Regions from separate parts of the Homo sapiens genome. Here region 2 is linked to region 1. The links come from fine-mapping of genetic effects on plasma protein levels. A gene starts in region 1. The other region holds a variant in brackets. All regions are shown on one strand. Distances are between the middles of the regions.

Region 1 (8,451 bases):
GTGCAGCATTTAGCCCTTATGGCTTTTGAAATAAAGAGTTTACTTTCAATTTTTGAAATTGATCGAGACCTTAAGATTATTGAGAGAATGAAAACCTGATAAAAACTTCATTCTGCGGCGGCAAAGTGTGTCAGCCATCCTCTGTGCATGTTTTAGCGATCCTTAAGAAATCTTGAAAGACCATCCTGCATGTTGGTAAATGCAATAAATCAAAATGAGATGTGAACAATACAGTTGGAACCCCTACTATAGACACTGGAATATTGGGAATCAAAGACATAAGCAAAATGGTTCCCCTGTGGGAAAACCTGCAGGCCTCCTTGCGGAGGGCCGTGGGGACACTGGCTGGGGTTTGGACTGCTGATTTGGTCTTTCACTGCATATGTATTGAGGGCCTGTTATGTACCAGCACTTGTCTAGGCACTGGGGATACAGTGGTGAATGAGACAAAGCCCCTGTGTTCATGAAGCTTATATTTTAGTGAGGGAGACAAAACAAGAAACAAATGCCAATCAGGTAGTGACAAGGGCATTGTAGGAAACAAAGCAGGCTGAGGGAGTGGAGACAGCGAGATGTGTGGGGAGAGGAGGTGGTCTTGGAAAGCATCCCCGAGGAAGTGGGCCCTGTGAGTACTCAATACTCAGAACCATGACTCAGGACGACTGCCCTGAACTACACTGAGGCTTGGTCTTGCTTAGATTAGGGAAATAGTCCGACCATGGAAAACGGAGTTCCCACCCAACCTCTCCACCTTCAAATGCACCTCGATGCTGCCATAGCCCTGTTGCATAGATTCTTTCTCCTCTTCTCCAGTCTGTGGCTTGTCATTGAATTCATAAACTCAGCTCTAACACAAACTGCCACTCCAAAACTTCTCCTTGAGATTCTTTGAAGCCCGGGGTAAAAAGTAGATACCAATAAATGGACCACTTTTCCTCTGAACTCAGACTCCGTGGAAAGCTGGCTTGCCCAACATCAGCCACATCAATTTCAGATTCACTAAACTTTTACTACCTGCCCATGATGTGCTAGGCATTTGTTTTAGACTTCAATTTGCTTTAGAGTTTTCTTATACTTTATCCTACAAGTATCACAGTAACACAAGTAGCAGCTTGTGAGGTGGGAGTCACACCTTCCTTTTTCTTCCTTTGCTTTTCTTTCCTTTCCATTCCTTTCCTTTCCTTTCCTTTCCTTTCCTTTCCTTTCTCTTTCCCTTCCTTTCTTCCTTCCTTCTTTCCTTCCTTCCTTCAATCCTTCCTTCCTCCCTCCCTCCCTTCCTTCTCTCTCTCTCTTTCTTTCTTTCTTCTCTTTCTTTTTTGCCAGAATGAGATACCGAATGTCACAGATACAAGCAGGAGCTGTGAATCCAGGTTTCCTGCATCCAAGCCCAGGGCTCCTTCCGCTACACAGTAGCTCAATCTCACTAGAAAATTTCACCTTCATCTTATTCCACACAGGACCCAGTGCCCTACAGCCTGTGCTGACCCAAGTTAGAGCAGATTCCCTGAGAACAACCTAGGCATGCCCTGGGATGGTGAAATACCACTCATGGGGACCCAGGTAAGGCCTCCTGGTAGTTGTTAGTGCCAGAGACCATCATCCAAACTTCAGAAGCCGGCACTTGAAGAGGTGATTTTCAACAGAGAAACTGTGATCAATGGCAGCACCACAGACCACTCAGCTATGATGGCAACACCTTTTAAAGATGGCACTTTGATTAGAAAGATTTTCTTTTTAGCAGATCCTATGTGCTATTGTCAAGCCTATATTCGAGACTCCTCCCCTCTTTTAAAATAAACCTGAAAGCTAATTTGGTTATACAAGGCAGCCCAACTGCACAAAACCATCAACAACTGTTCCCTGAGAACAGACTAAGCCTGTAGCCAACGTCAGATGTAATAGCTCCCCAGCCCATAAGCAATTTCTTTCCTTACAGATTTTTCACTGAGACTGGAGGCTGAACTCAAAGGCATAATCATTTTTAAAAGTGCTTCCAGGGTAATTCGTGTCAGTCCTGGGGCAGCTGGATCTTATTGTAAAGAAGTTGTTTTGCATGTTTGTGAGTTTTCAACCCTGTGATTAGTAGACGGGGAGAAGGAGGCAACAGAGGGTGGAAGGAGGAAAGGAAACCAAAATTACTAGACACTGCACACCCAAAAATGCCGAGTAAGAGGAGGTGGAAGAGGTATCTCGCCTATCAGCTTTTCCCTTGACTCCCATGGGCCAAATAAAATCATGTTATTTCACCTTCTTCCTCTTTTGCTTTTCTTCAAATAGTTTGGGAGTTCATGACAAACCAGTCACAGTTGGCAAGTTTAAAACTAAACATCATTTGGCTTCTCTCTCTAGCAGGGATGAACACAAAGATCAACAGAATGCAAGAAAAAGCCAAGAGTGTTTTCAGGGGTGAGCCACAGCTCTGTGGAGCCTTCAGAGATCATGCAGCCTGACTGCTCACTTTCCAAATGAGGCGGGAGACTGGAGGGCTGAGCGTCTGGGCCAAGGTCACACCACAAGTCATTAGAACCAGGATCCAGACCCAGGCCTCCTGATTCAGAGCCTAGGGCTCTTCCTCTATGGCTTGGGGAACCATGGCTGAGTGCTGCTTGACTGTGGCACAAAAAACGGCTGTTAGAAAGGAGTCGCACCCATGCGATAGTGCTCCTGAGAGGTGAGGACTGGAGGGACAGTTGTAATTAGGTCATTGCCATGCTCCACATTAGGCAGTGGGCCTGGCTGTGAGGAGTCATGGAGACAACAATCAAGGTGAGCCTGGTCTCTGAATCAGCATCTGTCAGAAGGGGTTTTGAATAACTAAATCTGCTCACCAGAGGCCATGGGGGTGGATGAGAATGGCCCACAAAGGCTGTCCAAGCAGCCTCCACAGCCCCGGCACCCTCACCTGCTGCTGCCTGTGTGAGTCCTCTCCCCACCCCTTCTACAGTCCGGCTGAGCCCCTCCACAGTCCTGGTAACCAAGTAGGGATCATCCCTCTGGGGCTGGGCTTCTGCTGTGGTCTTGCAGGTCCCCACCCTCTCCAGGAGGAAGAACTGCCCTGAATCTGGTCCTGTGGCACTGGCTCTGCTGACAGAGTCAGCTGTCGGGTGGGAGCCCACTCTGGGTGGAGGCAGCAGCCTCTCAGGAGCCCGTCACTGTGGCAAAGTACAAACTCTTTGAAGCAAAGACTCTGTGGATCCAAACCCCAGCTTTCTAGCCGAGGAAATACTGGATCTCTAGACTGCAGTTTGTCTACCTATAAATGGGATATACCCTTGTTTTGAGCATTACACGAGATGATCCACATAAAGCACTTAGCATGGAGCCTGCTCAGGGTAAGCACTCAATAAATGGTAGCTGTTGTCATTACTTAAAGGCCCGCTCTCTTTCCTGGCTCCCCCACCCATCGGTGTTTCTTCCTCTTGGATTTCCCATCATCACCTCTCTACTGGTTGTGTCCCCCAGGGTTCTATGCTTTTTCTTTTTTCTATTTTCTTTTTTTTTTTTTTTTGAGGCAGAGTCTTGCTCTGCCACCCAGGAGGGAATACAGTGGTGCGAGCATGGCTCACTGCAGCCTCGACTCCCTGGGCTCAAGTGATCCTCCTACCTTAGCCTCCTGAGTAGCTGGGACCACAGGCTGCATGCAACTACACCGGGCTAATTTTTTTTTTTCTGTAGAGATAGGGTCTGGCTGTGTTCCCTAGGCTGGTCTCGAACTCTTGATCTCAAGTGATCCTCCCTCCCCAGCCTCCCAAAGTGTTTGGGATTACAGGCGTGAGCCACCACACCTGGCCAGATTTTGTGCTTGACCCCTCCAATCCCCACTACACTAAGTACTTGTTGCCACACATCTGGGTTGCTCTACAGATAGCACATGCAGCAGCCCTCCAGGTGGGCTTCCTCCTCCCTGGACTGCCTCCTCCGTTCTCTCCTCCAAGCCTCCTAGAGTGCTGGCTCCATCTAGGCTGTTGTAAATAATCAGCCTAGCAGTCAGTGCCTACTAGGATGAGCTCCTGACCAAGCACCTGGGCTGAGACCCAGCTGAGACAATCACACCCCACAAAAAAGTACAAGCTCGAAAAAATTCCATGCCACTGCTTAAGGCAGAATGCAGTCAGGGGAAGACAGCACCTCTCTCCAAAACCCTTTAGTAAACTATTTTCCAGCAATAAAACCCACTTTAAATTCAGGCAGAGAGAAGGACCTCAGTACTCATAATTGAGAGAGCACATTTAATCAAGGCAGTAGACAGCTATTTAATTCCACTTTCTTTTGCCTAAATGTCCTTGTCCCCTCTTTTCCATTCACTTGCTCTAAATCAATAGTTCTCAAACCCTCCGTGCTGAGAGATCAATTGTTTATTTTTCTTGTTCCCAAACTACTGTGGGCCAGTACTTTTGTAAAATGGTAAAAATAAATTTCTAAAAAAGAAAAATGCCATTCCGATGGCACAGAAAGTTTTAATTTCTATAAAGTTTATTACTTTCAGTTTCTGTACATATCTTTTGGTAGTCTGGTAAGCAAGCTTCTCGCCGACCTACACCAGCCCCTGGCCCAAACTGAGAGTAGGTAGAACAGCTTCTGGAAGGAACAGAGCCACAGAGGAGTCTGTCTCCCACAGACACTCCCCATCCCAGGTTTTTGTCCTGTCATGTAGTCCGCTCAGCAGCAGCCCTGCTCCACCCAGAGCATGCAGTGGTGAGGTTTGGGGTGGGATTTGCCCAGGCTTTGGTTACTGATATTCCTTGAGAGTCTAGCAGCCCCCAGGAGGAGGGATATGCAGAGATGTTCCCAGCCCCAGTGCAGTGCAGGGACTGGCCCTTACCATTCCATGCCAGCCCTGTTGATCTCCTCCCACCAGCACTCCGTGGGTTCCCCGAGGCTCTGTGGCGTGGGCATGCAGGCGTAGTTCCATTGTCTGTCAGAACCTTCCTTCTTGCTGAAGATGCTCCTCACGGCCACTATCACCTGCCCCTGGGGACACTGGTAGCTGAAGCCTTGCCGGTTCAAATTCACCCACCCATCATCGCTGTAGTCATGATACTGCTGGTATGGGTATCCATAATCGCCATACTGGCCCCAGGCCATGGTGACTAGGGGCAGAAGTACCCAGAGAAGACTGAGGTCCATGCTGCCTGGGATTTTGGCAAACAATGTCACTCTAAGATTGCTGGTCTGACCGTTTTATATAGCTGCCGCTGACATGTGGCTTCCAGATGTGGGTGAGAAGGATCCAACTGCAGTGTGTCATTGCTTAAGCAAAACTTTTCCATGCTGAGATGTCAGCCATAAGGACATTCAGCTTGTTTTAAGGTGGAATTCTAGGAATATACCAGCAGCATGTAAGTCTAAGAAGCTCCCTGGAGAAAGAACAACTTTGTATCTAGATTATAAAAGCCAACTGCTGCTCTACCCTGTAGAAATATTCACTTGAAAAACACTGATTAGTAGCATATTTGTCCCTCACCTTTCAGCACCTCACCCCTTTCTGTCCTACCCTACCCGCTACTAGCAAACCCCTGTATTTGTTCTCCAAACTAGCCTTCCGGGCCACACAAATACCCAGACAGTGATTTCAAAATACCGAAATCATAGACTGAAGTAACAGAGCCATCTAGGATTTCTGTAAGGCTGAATGCCTGTTTTTTTTTTTAAGTTGTCAATCCAACACTTTTTAACCCTTGAGTATAAGCGCGGGTATACCAGTTTGCAGGGCTACTCTGAGAACTCATAAGTTGCATAAGGAAGTACTATGGGCCCATGGGGAGATAAGTTGGATATGATTTCTACACTTAAGCATTCTACCATGCTGCTGAAATTGGACCCAGTCAAGTCTAGAAAGTGTGCTCTGCTCTCAAAATGTAATGGGTTTAATCTAAATAAACCCCCTATTTATCCTTCAGTATTTTTGCCCTCACATTGAATTTTCTTTTCATTGAGTTATAATTTACATATAATTAATTCACCTTTTAAAATACATAATGTACAGTAACATAGCCAGCACCCTAATCAAGACTTAGAACAGTTCCATCAATCCAAAACATCCCCTTATATCCCTTTGCAGTCAAATCTTCCCAAACACCCAGCCATTGGTAACCACTGATTTACTTTCTGTCTCTATGGTTTTGCCTTTTCCAGAATGTCAAGTAAATGGAATCATACCACACGTAGCCTTTCATGTCCATCTTTCACTTAGCATAATGCTTTTAAGGTTCATCCATTTTAAAATTCAACATCTCATTGTATGTGTTAGTATTTTGTTTCTTGTTATTGTTGAGTAATATTCCATAGCATGGATGTACCACAGATTGTTTATACATTTACTAGTTGAAAGACATTTGGGTTGTTTCCAGTTTTTGAAAATTCATTACTTTTTATGTAATGAATTTTATATTCATTATATTTTATATAATGAATTACATAAATGTAATTATAAAGTTGATATAAACATCTATGTATAGGTTTTTGTGTGAACAAATTTTTATTTCATTTGGGTCAATACCTAGGAGTGAGATTGCTGGTTCACAAGGTAATGTATGTTTAACTTTAAAAGAAACTACTGAGGCCGGGTGTGGTGGCTCATGCTTGTAATCCCAGCACTTTAGGAGGCCGAGGCGGGCGGATCACGAGGTCAGGAGATCGAGACCATCCTGGCTAACATGGTGAAACCCCGCCTCTACTAAAAATACAAAAAATTAGCCAGGCTTAGTGGCGGGCGCCTGTAGTCCCAGCTACTCGGGAGGCTGAGACAGGAGAATGGCGTGAACCCGAGAAGCGGAGCTTGCAGTGAGCCGAGATTGTGCCACTGCACTCCAGCCTGGGCTACAGAGCGAGACTCCGTCTCAAAAAAACAAAAAAAAGAAAGCAAGAAACTACCTAGCTGATTTCCAAAGTGGTGATACCATTGCCCACCACTACCAGAAAATTGCCATTAAAAAATTTTAGCTATTCAAATAGGTTTGTAGTGATATTTCAGTGTGGTTGTGATTTTCATTTCTCTAATGATCCATGATTTTGAGCATCTTTTCATGTGCTCATTACCCATTCCATGCATCCGTTGATGATTTGGCTTTTCAAATTTTTTGAAACCTTTGGGCATCTCTTAAGCACATAGTATTTCCCATTTCTCATCAGTATTGTTCTTAAAGTTTCTTAGAATTGTGATCATAGACCAATTCTATCTACAGCCTCTGTGAAGTTTGTTAAAATGTAGACAGTGGCTCTTCTCCAGGCCTGCTAAATCATAACCTCACAAGGGGTGCTCAGGTATTTATATTTTAAAAAATTTTCCAGGTGATTCTTATTCACATCAATTGCTAAGAGTCACCTTCCTAAAGGAATGTGGAGCCAGAGAAAAATCACACTATTAATCCCACCATCTGCCTAGCCTGTGGCACATTTACCAGACGGTATTCAGTCTAGATCAAACACCAAGATAGTCTTGAAAGGGAAAGACAGTCATACATGAGAATAAAGCAACAAGTAACTCGTGTGTGTGTGTGTGTGTGTGTGTGTTTGTGTGTGTGTTGGGCATGCAGTTTTCTTTGATGATCATGGTTACTGAAGCGAGGGGGAGAGGATCTGGGCTGAACAGCTATGTGAGGCTTAGTTTTGTTTTTAGCACCATCTTCTCCCACCACTTCCATCCGTAAGTAACTGCCCAGTGCTGGCATCGGAATTCTTCCTAGCTTAGAAGGATCTCTCTGATTCATGATATGCTGAAGCAATCATTCTCCACCTTATCAGCATTTAAGGATTACCTGGAAAGCTTTTGGAAACCTCCAGAGTCTAAGCAATTTCTGGACCAATCAGATCAGAAGCTTCTGAGCAGGGTCCTGACAATGACGTCCTTTGAAACCTTCCCTATAGGCTTCTCACCGGAAGCCAGGGTTGAGAACCTCTATGCTAGAGGGTTTTTTTTTTTTTTTAATTTTTTCAGTTTATCATCCTGATGCTCATGAGTTGTATCTTGCATTCTGGACATGATATGAGCTATTTTAAACCTTAAAGAGCTCTAAGAGACAAAGCAGATTATCATAAACACTCATCTTTATTATACATTTGTTTTCCAACAATTTCCAGGGCCTCTGCCTGATCTCCACTCTCCGCAGATTTCTTTCAACTACAGCTAGAACTACCTCAGCTGGATTCCCTTTAATGTGCAAAAATAAATATCTTCATGCTATGGTCCAGTTTTAATATAGATTTCTGTTACTTAAAGCTGAAAGCAACCTAACTCATCCAGTGTCTCAGGAGATTCCAGAAACTGCTGATGCCTTTGAGAGAGATTCTGGTGGCCGCATAGAGAATGATTTCCATACGCAGACATTGAGAACATAAGATTAATGCATTTACAGTTGACCATGTGTTTTCAACTAGGTTACTATGTTATCTTCCTCATAACTTTATATGTTAGTGAGGCATTATTGGAATTAGTTTCTCACAGATGGGGAA
Region 2 (8,451 bases), 26 kb after region 1:
TATATATATATATATATCACATTTTCTTTATCCACTCATTGACTGATGGGCATTTGGGCTGGTTCCATACTTTTTGCAAATGCAAATTGTGCTGCTGTAACTACATGTGTGCAAGTGTCTTTTTCATGTAATGAATTATTTTCCTCTGGGTGATACCCAGTAGTGGGATTGCTGGATCAAATGGTAGCTCTATTTTTAGTTCTTTAAGGAATCTTCACACTGTTTTCCATAGTGGTTGTACTAGTTTACATGCCCACCAGCAGTGTAAAAGTGTTCCTTTGTCACCATACTCATGCCAACAGCTATTTTTTTTAAATTTTTTTTTATTATGTCCATTCTTGCAGGAGTAAGGTGGTATTGCATTGTGGTTTTCACTTGCATTTCCCTGATCATTAGTGATGTTGAGCATGTTTTTCATGTTTCTTGGCCATTTATATATCCTCTTTTGAGGATTATCTATTCATGTCCTTAGGGGACATGGATTAGTATTTTTTTCTTGCTGATTTGTTTGAGTTCTTTTTAGATTCTGGATATTAGTCCTCTGTCAGATGCATAGATTGCAAAATTTTTCTCCCATTCTGTGGGTTGTCTGTGTACTCTCCTGATTATTTCTTTTGCTGCACAGAAGCTTTTTCTTTAATTTCCTTAATTAGGTCCCATTTATTTATTTTTGTTTTTGTTGCATTTGCTTTTGGGTTCTTAGTCATGAAGTTTTTGCCTAAGTCACTGTCTAGAAGGTTTTTCCACTGTTATCTTCTAGAATTTTTATGGTTTCAGGTCTTAGATGTAAGTCTTTGATCCACCTTGAGTTGATATTTTTATAAGATGAGACATGAGACTCCAGTTTCATTCCTCTACATATGGCTTGCCAATTATCCCAGCACCAGTTGTTGAATAGGGTGTCCTTTCCCCACTTTACGTTTTTGTTTGCTTTGTCAAATACTAGTTGGGTGTAAGTATTTGGCTTTATTGCTGGTTCTCTATTTTGTTCCATTATTCTGTGTGCCTGTTTTTATACCAGTACCATGCTGTTTTGGTGACTATAGTCTTTGCTAGTATAGTTTGAAGTTGGGTAATGTGATGCCTCTAGATTTGCTCTTTTTGGTTAGTGTTGCTTCAGCTATGAAGGTACTTTTTTGGTTCTATATGAATTTTAGGATTGTTTTTTCAAGTTCTGTGAAGAATGATGGTATTTTGGTATTTTGATGGGAAATGCATTGAATTTTTAATTTGCTTTCTGGTCCTGGGCTTAAGAAAGAAAGGAAGTGAAGGTATAGTAATAATTAAAGACAGGAAGTTCTTGATCAGGGTTGTGAAAGCTCCTTTCCCTGTAATGGATTAGAGAGGTCCTAAAGATCCTAGCCAGACTACAGATCAAATCCCTGCTCTTCAATATTCTTTGATGTCTCAAGCAAGTACAGTTAAACTCTGAGTCTCCACAATTGTAAAAATTGAGATAATAATATCCAGTTCTCAAGATTATTATAAGGATTAAATGATAATCATGTCTGTGAAGTACTCAGGCACTGCTTGGCACATAGTAACCTCTTGGTAGTTGAGAATCATTCCAAGGCTATTTTTCTAGCCTGCCACAATCCTGCCACCAGACTCCACATTCCCTCCTCATTCAGTAAACATAGAAGTGCAGCCTGGAATGCTTTCCATCTTCTGTCTGTTTAAAAAATCTACTCAAATGAGTAGGTGTGTGGTGGAGTGGCGAGGGGAGAGACTGCGGAGTCAGCAAGAAATCCTTTGGCAGTTAAAGTTATTTGAACTCAAAGCCTGTGTTCGCCCAACTGTAAAGTAGGGATAATAACATTGTCTGCCTCACAGGATTCTTGTATAACATAAGAAAATGCATGTGAAAGACTGAGCACAATGCTTGGTAGCAAGCAGTCAATAAAGGATGCCTATTAACTCTGCTAGGCAATAAGAGCTCAACTCAGTAGCATCCTCCTGTCTGAAGGTTTTTCTGTAATTGCTCCCTGTGCTGCCATAACACACTGTCTGTAGTGCATTTCTTTTCAACATGAAATTGTCATATTGCCATGTGTAAAAATTAGTAGCATATATAAAACATCTATACAAGCTCATGTGCTCCTTAAGGACAAAGACTGTTTCAGTGATGAGGTCCTCACAATCAGTGGGGGTTACATAGTAAAGGCTCAGAAGACATTGTTGAACTGAACTGAAATGACAAATTAAAACAGAAAGCTTTTCTACTAAGATGATAACTAGGAAGACAGTTATCATGTCCCCTAAACAACAGTAAAACTAGCAAGAAGTAAACCATGTTTAACAGTCACTCTAACATGGATGGTCAGGAAATTGATTGCAAGTGAGAAAAAGAGATGGAAATAATTGAGAAAAATATTTATGTGTCAGAAAGAAAAGTGTGAATCAATTACTAGAGTTATGAATATTAAGCAAGTTGCTTGAGAAGCATTGATGTACGGATGAATTGGGCAATTTTTCCCAAGTTTTCCACAAAAAGGAATCAAGATCACTCAGCTGCTGACAGATGATTTTTACCTTTCAGATTCAACATTATTTACTGTCACCCAGCTAAAGACAAAGGAGTTTACACGTTGTGTATGTAAATATTAACTGGGTGATGACTCACATTTTTATGGGAGCTCTATAATTCATAGTTATACGTGCAGACAAGCATCCCACTGAGAGACTGGGTGTGGGGAGAAGGGCATGGAAATTAAACCACTGCAAGTTTCCACGCACACCACTTCCTCCTTATCTGTGAAATTTTATCTTCTCTGTTATTGTCCAAGACGCTGTTGTGCAAACCCCTCACATCTGAAAGTCCTGGGAAGAGAACTGTGGTATGAGTTTTCAGGAATCGGGGCTAGATATGGGAGTACTTTTCCATGAAACAAAAGCGGATAACACCCCCCGCCCTCAACTCCAGGGCTTAATCAAAGGAGACCAAACCCTTGCTATAGGCATCAAGTTTGTATGCAGGATGAAGTATGGCAGACAACGAGGGAGGGAGTGTTTATTCAAACACATATGCAGCCCCTGTCCTAAATCAGTGCCAAATTGGGTGATGGCAAACCTAAGAAATACAGTGTCTCACTGATACAATCCCAGCTCCTCCTCAATGTTAAAGGGTAATTTATAAGTTAAAGTGAAAAGATTTTTTTTTCCAAGAGTCTTGCTCTCACACAGGCTGGAGTGCAGTGACGCTATCTCGGCTCACTGCAAACTCTGCCTCTCGGGTTCAAGCAATTCTCTGCCTCAATCTCCCGAGTAGCTGGGATTATAGGTGCCCACCACCACACCTGGCTAATTTTTGTGTTTTTAGTAGAGATGGGGTTTCACCATCTTGACCAGGCTGGTCTTGAACCCCTGACTTCATGATCCACCTGCCTTGGTCTCCCAAAGTGCTGGGATTACAGGCGTGAACTACCATGCCGAGCCAAGAATATTTTCAAAAACTAAATTTAGTATCTATTGTTTGCCTGAAAGGTCCAGGGGATATTGGTGTTGGTGGGAATGGTTCTAATTCTTATGTTCCTGGAAGTCCACAGATTTCTGTTCATGCCCAGGATCTGCTGCGCTCATGGAGGATGTCAGGCAAGTTGCTTAGCCATATAAGTTTGGGAGCAGGTGGGCAGTTTCCCAATTGGTACAATGAGATGACTGGTTAGCTCATCTCCAAGACAATTGGGCTTAACATTTTGGAGATCATAGATAACTTGGAGAATCTGATGAAAACTGTGAACCTTCTTTCCAGAAGAAAGTACATACATTTGACTTTCAACATTTCTTTTCAGAAACTTTATGGACACCTTGAATTTATCCACGGACTGCAGGTCCGTGTTCTAAAGGATTGTTGCATAGTGTTTTGGATAGTTTGAATACTAAGAATGAATACCAAGAGGATGTAAAACACAAGGGCACTGCTTTTCCTTCAAATATAACAATTTAAAATTCAATATTCCAGAGATATCAAGTTAAAAATGAAAGATCTGATATCTTCCGACTTTTAATCCATATAGTGCTATAAAGTTTTTTTTTTTTTTTTTTTTGAGACGGAGTCTCGCTCTGTCGCCCAGGCCGGACTGCGGACTGCAGTGGCGCAATCTCGGCTCACTGCAAGCTCCGCTTCCCGGGTTCACGCCATTCTCCTGCCTCAGCCTCCCGAGTAGCTGGGACTACAGGTGCCCGCCACCGCGCCCGGCTAATTTTTTGTATTTTTAGTAGACACGGGGTTTCACCTTGTTAGCCAGGATGGTCTCTATCTCCTGACCTCATGATCCACCCGCCTCGGCCTCCCAAAGTGCTGGGGTTACAGGCGTGAGCCACCGCGCCCGGCCTAGTGCTACAAAGTTTTAATCGAATGACTAAATTATAAGCCTTGGGTTCCTTTTGTATATTTTTAAATAAAACTGAATTTTCCTAATGAATTAAACTTTCTACTTGCACTATGATTTCAAAGATATTTCCCCAGGAAAAAATATTTGGCTCCAACTGTGAATATACACAAAATTATCACATTTTGGTAAGAACTAATATCTACTAATGAAACCTCATTGGCTTAATTTGGCTTAAGAAACACCCCCTCCACCACCTCCATGTGACCACTGTTTCAGAATGTTAGAAAAACAAACTAAAGTATTGATGACTTAACAGAAGCACTGTGTTGATACAGTCATAGATTCCCTTTTAAAAATCTGCTTAATGAACTGGAGCATTTTAAAAATTGCTCCAACAGGTCAAACAGGAGACATGTCAGGTGGGAAGTGAAAGGCGGCAAACATAGGCAATTTCGACATACGCAGATAATGGCAAGATCATGTCACAATCATAACATGGCTAAAATCTCCATTTGGACTGAAAAGTATTGGGTATCTTAGTGCTCTCCAAATTGCCTACTTCTTTTTTAACTTAAAAATTTACTTAGACTGTCTTATTTATTTATGTAGTTCCCAAGTCCAGTTCAGTATCTGGCACGCTGTTCTCACTGCAC[G/A]ATCTTTTACTTCTTCCCATTTTTTTGGAAAATGTCAGAGTAGGAGGAAGCAGAAAGATCTGTATGCCTCTCATCTTCCTGTTGTAGAGACTGAAATCCTATTAGATTCAGTTCCTTGAGCCAAGGTGTTGAGTCCCCAGCTACCTCCCTTTCTGGTGTAAATATTTCTGGAATGTGTAACACTTGAATGAGATGGTAACTCATGAATGTAATATAAAATATGGTCTCCCAGTTCAATTTCACACATATACCTGAATCTGGGACATTGAGGAAACCAAAGACATGATGGGCAAGGAAAGATAGGATTTGATTGCATCGAGAAGAGGGGAGAGCCTAGAAAACAACTAAGGACATGAGCTGAGATGGGATGTGGTGGGAGGTGGCAGGAGGCTGGAGGCACCTGGGGCAGGAGAATGCTAGAAGAGCAAGCAGAAAATACAAAGGCTAAATTGGCCTTCTTCAGTTTTACTCCGAATAATTCCAATCCAGTTGACAAGAAATTATATGTACCACACTACTCTGAATGTGTCAGTTATTTTATTTTGAAAACTTTTGCACATGGTAGGCAGTAAAAATATTTGTGGAATGAATGAAATTATCACCAACACCCCTATGCCATATGATAACTAAGTTAAGAATCCTTCTCATTAAAATGCAGTTCTAAAGCTGAGGCCCCCTTAGAGCAGACTGACTTTTATCAGAAACAGTATGGCCATCTGTCCTGAATAAATGCCTTTAAGGTCATTTTTCAAAATTCTTCATCCCATATTTCTTCTATGTCATGGAATCTGTGCATTTCATTCTACTATATTTCCTTTGCTTTTCCTTGTGGCCAGGTTGATCATACAACTCTTACTACCAAAGGACTGACTGCTTGACAGAACCACTGCGTTGTATTAGTGACATTAATTGAACATTGAACAGGTGTAAGGAATTAGAATAGCACCTCACAGTGCCTTAGCTCATTTGCATCTGGTGTGGATTAACGTTATTCCCATTTTACCGATTGAAATTCTAGGAGTTAAAGGTCATACAATTAGTAAGCAGTGGAGCAGATTTCTATTCCTCATCATGTGAACTGAAGTCAGAGCTCTCAAGCCCTGTGCTATGCAGCTTGTGCTCTGCAGAGAGAGGGCACCTAGTCAAGGTTGCTGACAAGTGAAAAACAGTTCACCATATTAATTGAAAATTAAAGTAGAGCTAAAGGATACCAAAGAATAATAAATGCCGAGGCCCCAGTGCCAGGTATGCTCCATTTGTTCCAGAATATGAAGTTCCCACTCTTCTAAATCTCTGCCCACGAGAGCCTGCTGCTCATCAGGCAAAATACAAGGAGGTGATCTCAGAGGGTGGTGCTGCCTTCACACTCTGCTCAAAGGTGTGGGTGACATACAGCCTGCAAGTGACCTTGAGAAGTAGGCTGTTTCTCTCCCACCCCTTCCCAGGACCTATGGGACTCTACAAAACCCTCCTGCTTGTTACAGCTTTCTGAGAGGCGTAGGGCTCCCCAGGGAAATGGCACTGGGGAGGTAATCTCGCTTCTAGCAGTTCCTGTACTCACTGCCTCATTCTTCTAAGCTATCCTGGTGGAAACTGCCGGTCCCCAGCCAGTGAACCAGAACCATGTCCCTGTTCCTTTCTGTAGAGCAATAAAGGAAAAGTCTGGCTTGTGTCAGCTGTGGCTGCCCTGGGTCACAACTCACCCCCAGGGAAGCAGACTGGTTTTCTGAACATTTTCTGAGTTCCAGCCTCTTTACAGCAAGAAGACCAAAAGTGGGAGCTCATACCTTGCTAAGAGGTAGAGCTACTAATTACCCAGTGCCTGCTCTGCTATTGGCGTTTTAACATACATTCTTATTTAATTGTCACCATATTGCTGTGAAGATGATCAGAATATCCCTGGTTTACATACTGGGAAGCTGTGTCTCAGCGAGGTGAAGTGATGTACCCAAGGCAAACCCTACAGAATGTCAAGACTGAGCTTTATAACCAGTCTGACTAGCTGTGAAGTTAATGCTTTCCCCTATTCTATACTACTTTACAGCCCCTCCCTCATGATCTCCTCTGCGGTATGCTCAAACACGAGATATCAGTGCCCACTTCCCATGAGAGGCTCTTCTTTCCAGCTGAGGGCTGGATCCTTGCAGCATTCATTCTGCTAAGCCAGAGAAGGGCTCCTAAACTCTTCCCTCTCCTGTCCACTTCCTAGTGCAACTTCATTATATTTGGTGAGCTAGGACATCTGGTTTTGTAGCAGCCTTCCCCTGAGGTTAAATTCATCTTTGACCGTGTCCCATGTACTATTCTCTAAAATCCAGAGAATTTACTTGCAAATTGTTTGAAAGTCAATGCTGTTTCTGATGGGGACACAGAATGCACAATAGAAGATAGAGAAACACAGAAATCCACTTTATCTCCCCACTTCACTATGCGAGCTTCCAGGCCATGTATCAGAATGCCTGGGCATGGGGTAATGAAAGGGTAAGGAAAGACCAGATAGGCTCATCCCAAACTCTGTCATTTAATGGCTGTGACCATAGGCAATTAAGGTCATCTGCACCTCAGTTTGTTCATCTTTACCTTCCAGATAGGTATTACCTGTAGGAGCCCACTCAAATTAAGGAGAGTAAATGAAGCCAGAACCCTAATGAGCTATTCATCCTCCAAAAAGAATAAACTATATTAAAAGAAAAAACAAAATAACAAAGAAGACCAAAAACACCTCCACAAAGAAAGTCAACATGGAAAATCATCTGGTAATGTTTACAGGAGGCCTAAGAGTGAGAGGATTCTTGACAACCTGTAGCTGTTTTTATCATTTCCACCCTTGCATTGGAATATGGCTTAGGAAAGTCTCTGCCTGTGCAGTGCCTTAGTTTTCCTCTCTGTAGAATGGAAATAATCTGAGTCTCCTGCCTGTCTTACACATTCTCACAGAAGCTTTACAAAATATACCTGATAGCTGTGAAACATTGAGTTCCCTAGGGATAGTCTACAGGAGCAGATTTCAGCAACCCAATCACCCATAGCCAATATATAATTTTACAACTTTTTTTTTTCACTGTGACTATCCACTAGACTGTAAGCTCCATGAAACAGAAAACTGTGTTAGATTTTGCTCAGTGGTGTATCCCTGGGCTAGGAGAGGCTGCAGTGCATTGCTCGGGTCCTGCCTTCAGGATGGAGGCATGCTTTCCCCCAGCTGCTGGGAGCATCAGCTGCCAATGGTTCACAGCTGATTGCCTTCCTAGGAATTGCCCTTGGTGAAAGAAAGTTCTTTGTGCAATGTTTTTTTCCTTCTTCAGTTGCAACCCAGTGACTGGTCAATACAGTGGTACAAAGGCCTGGGCCCCTTGCCTCAACTCAGGACAACTCTGAAAGGCTATCCCCAGGTCCAGAACTCTCTGAAGGGCCAGATGAGGCCTTCGTCAAAACTGCAGCACAGTTTAACTTCTTCTGCCAAG

Alleles and levels. Positions count from the first base shown, and alleles are read on the strand shown. Strength reflects both the effect of a copy and how common the allele is.
As copies of G replace A in region 2, the plasma level of the protein whose gene starts at base 5,159 in region 1 goes up (weak association).

What was found. A credible set is the group of variants that fine-mapping cannot tell apart. PIP is the posterior inclusion probability: the model's chance that the variant is causal. The UK Biobank Pharma Proteomics Project read protein levels with antibody pairs (Olink). The fine-mapping took linkage between variants from a reference panel, not from the people measured, so its PIPs are less certain.
Region 2: its variant is the best candidate, but not a certain one, in a credible set for the plasma level of the DPT protein (UK Biobank, PIP 0.70).

Annotation. Positions count from the first base shown.
Region 1 is chr1:168,724,048-168,732,498 of GRCh38, forward strand. It overlaps DPT (dermatopontin), which reads right to left and starts at 5,159. Exons shown (of 4, transcript NM_001937.5): 1 at 4,823-5,159. The coding sequence starts at 5,127.
Region 2 is chr1:168,749,651-168,758,101 of GRCh38, forward strand. No RefSeq gene overlaps it. Among named protein-coding and RNA genes, the nearest start is that of DPT, 25 kb to the left of the region's middle. The variant G/A (reference allele first, on the strand shown) is at 4,988.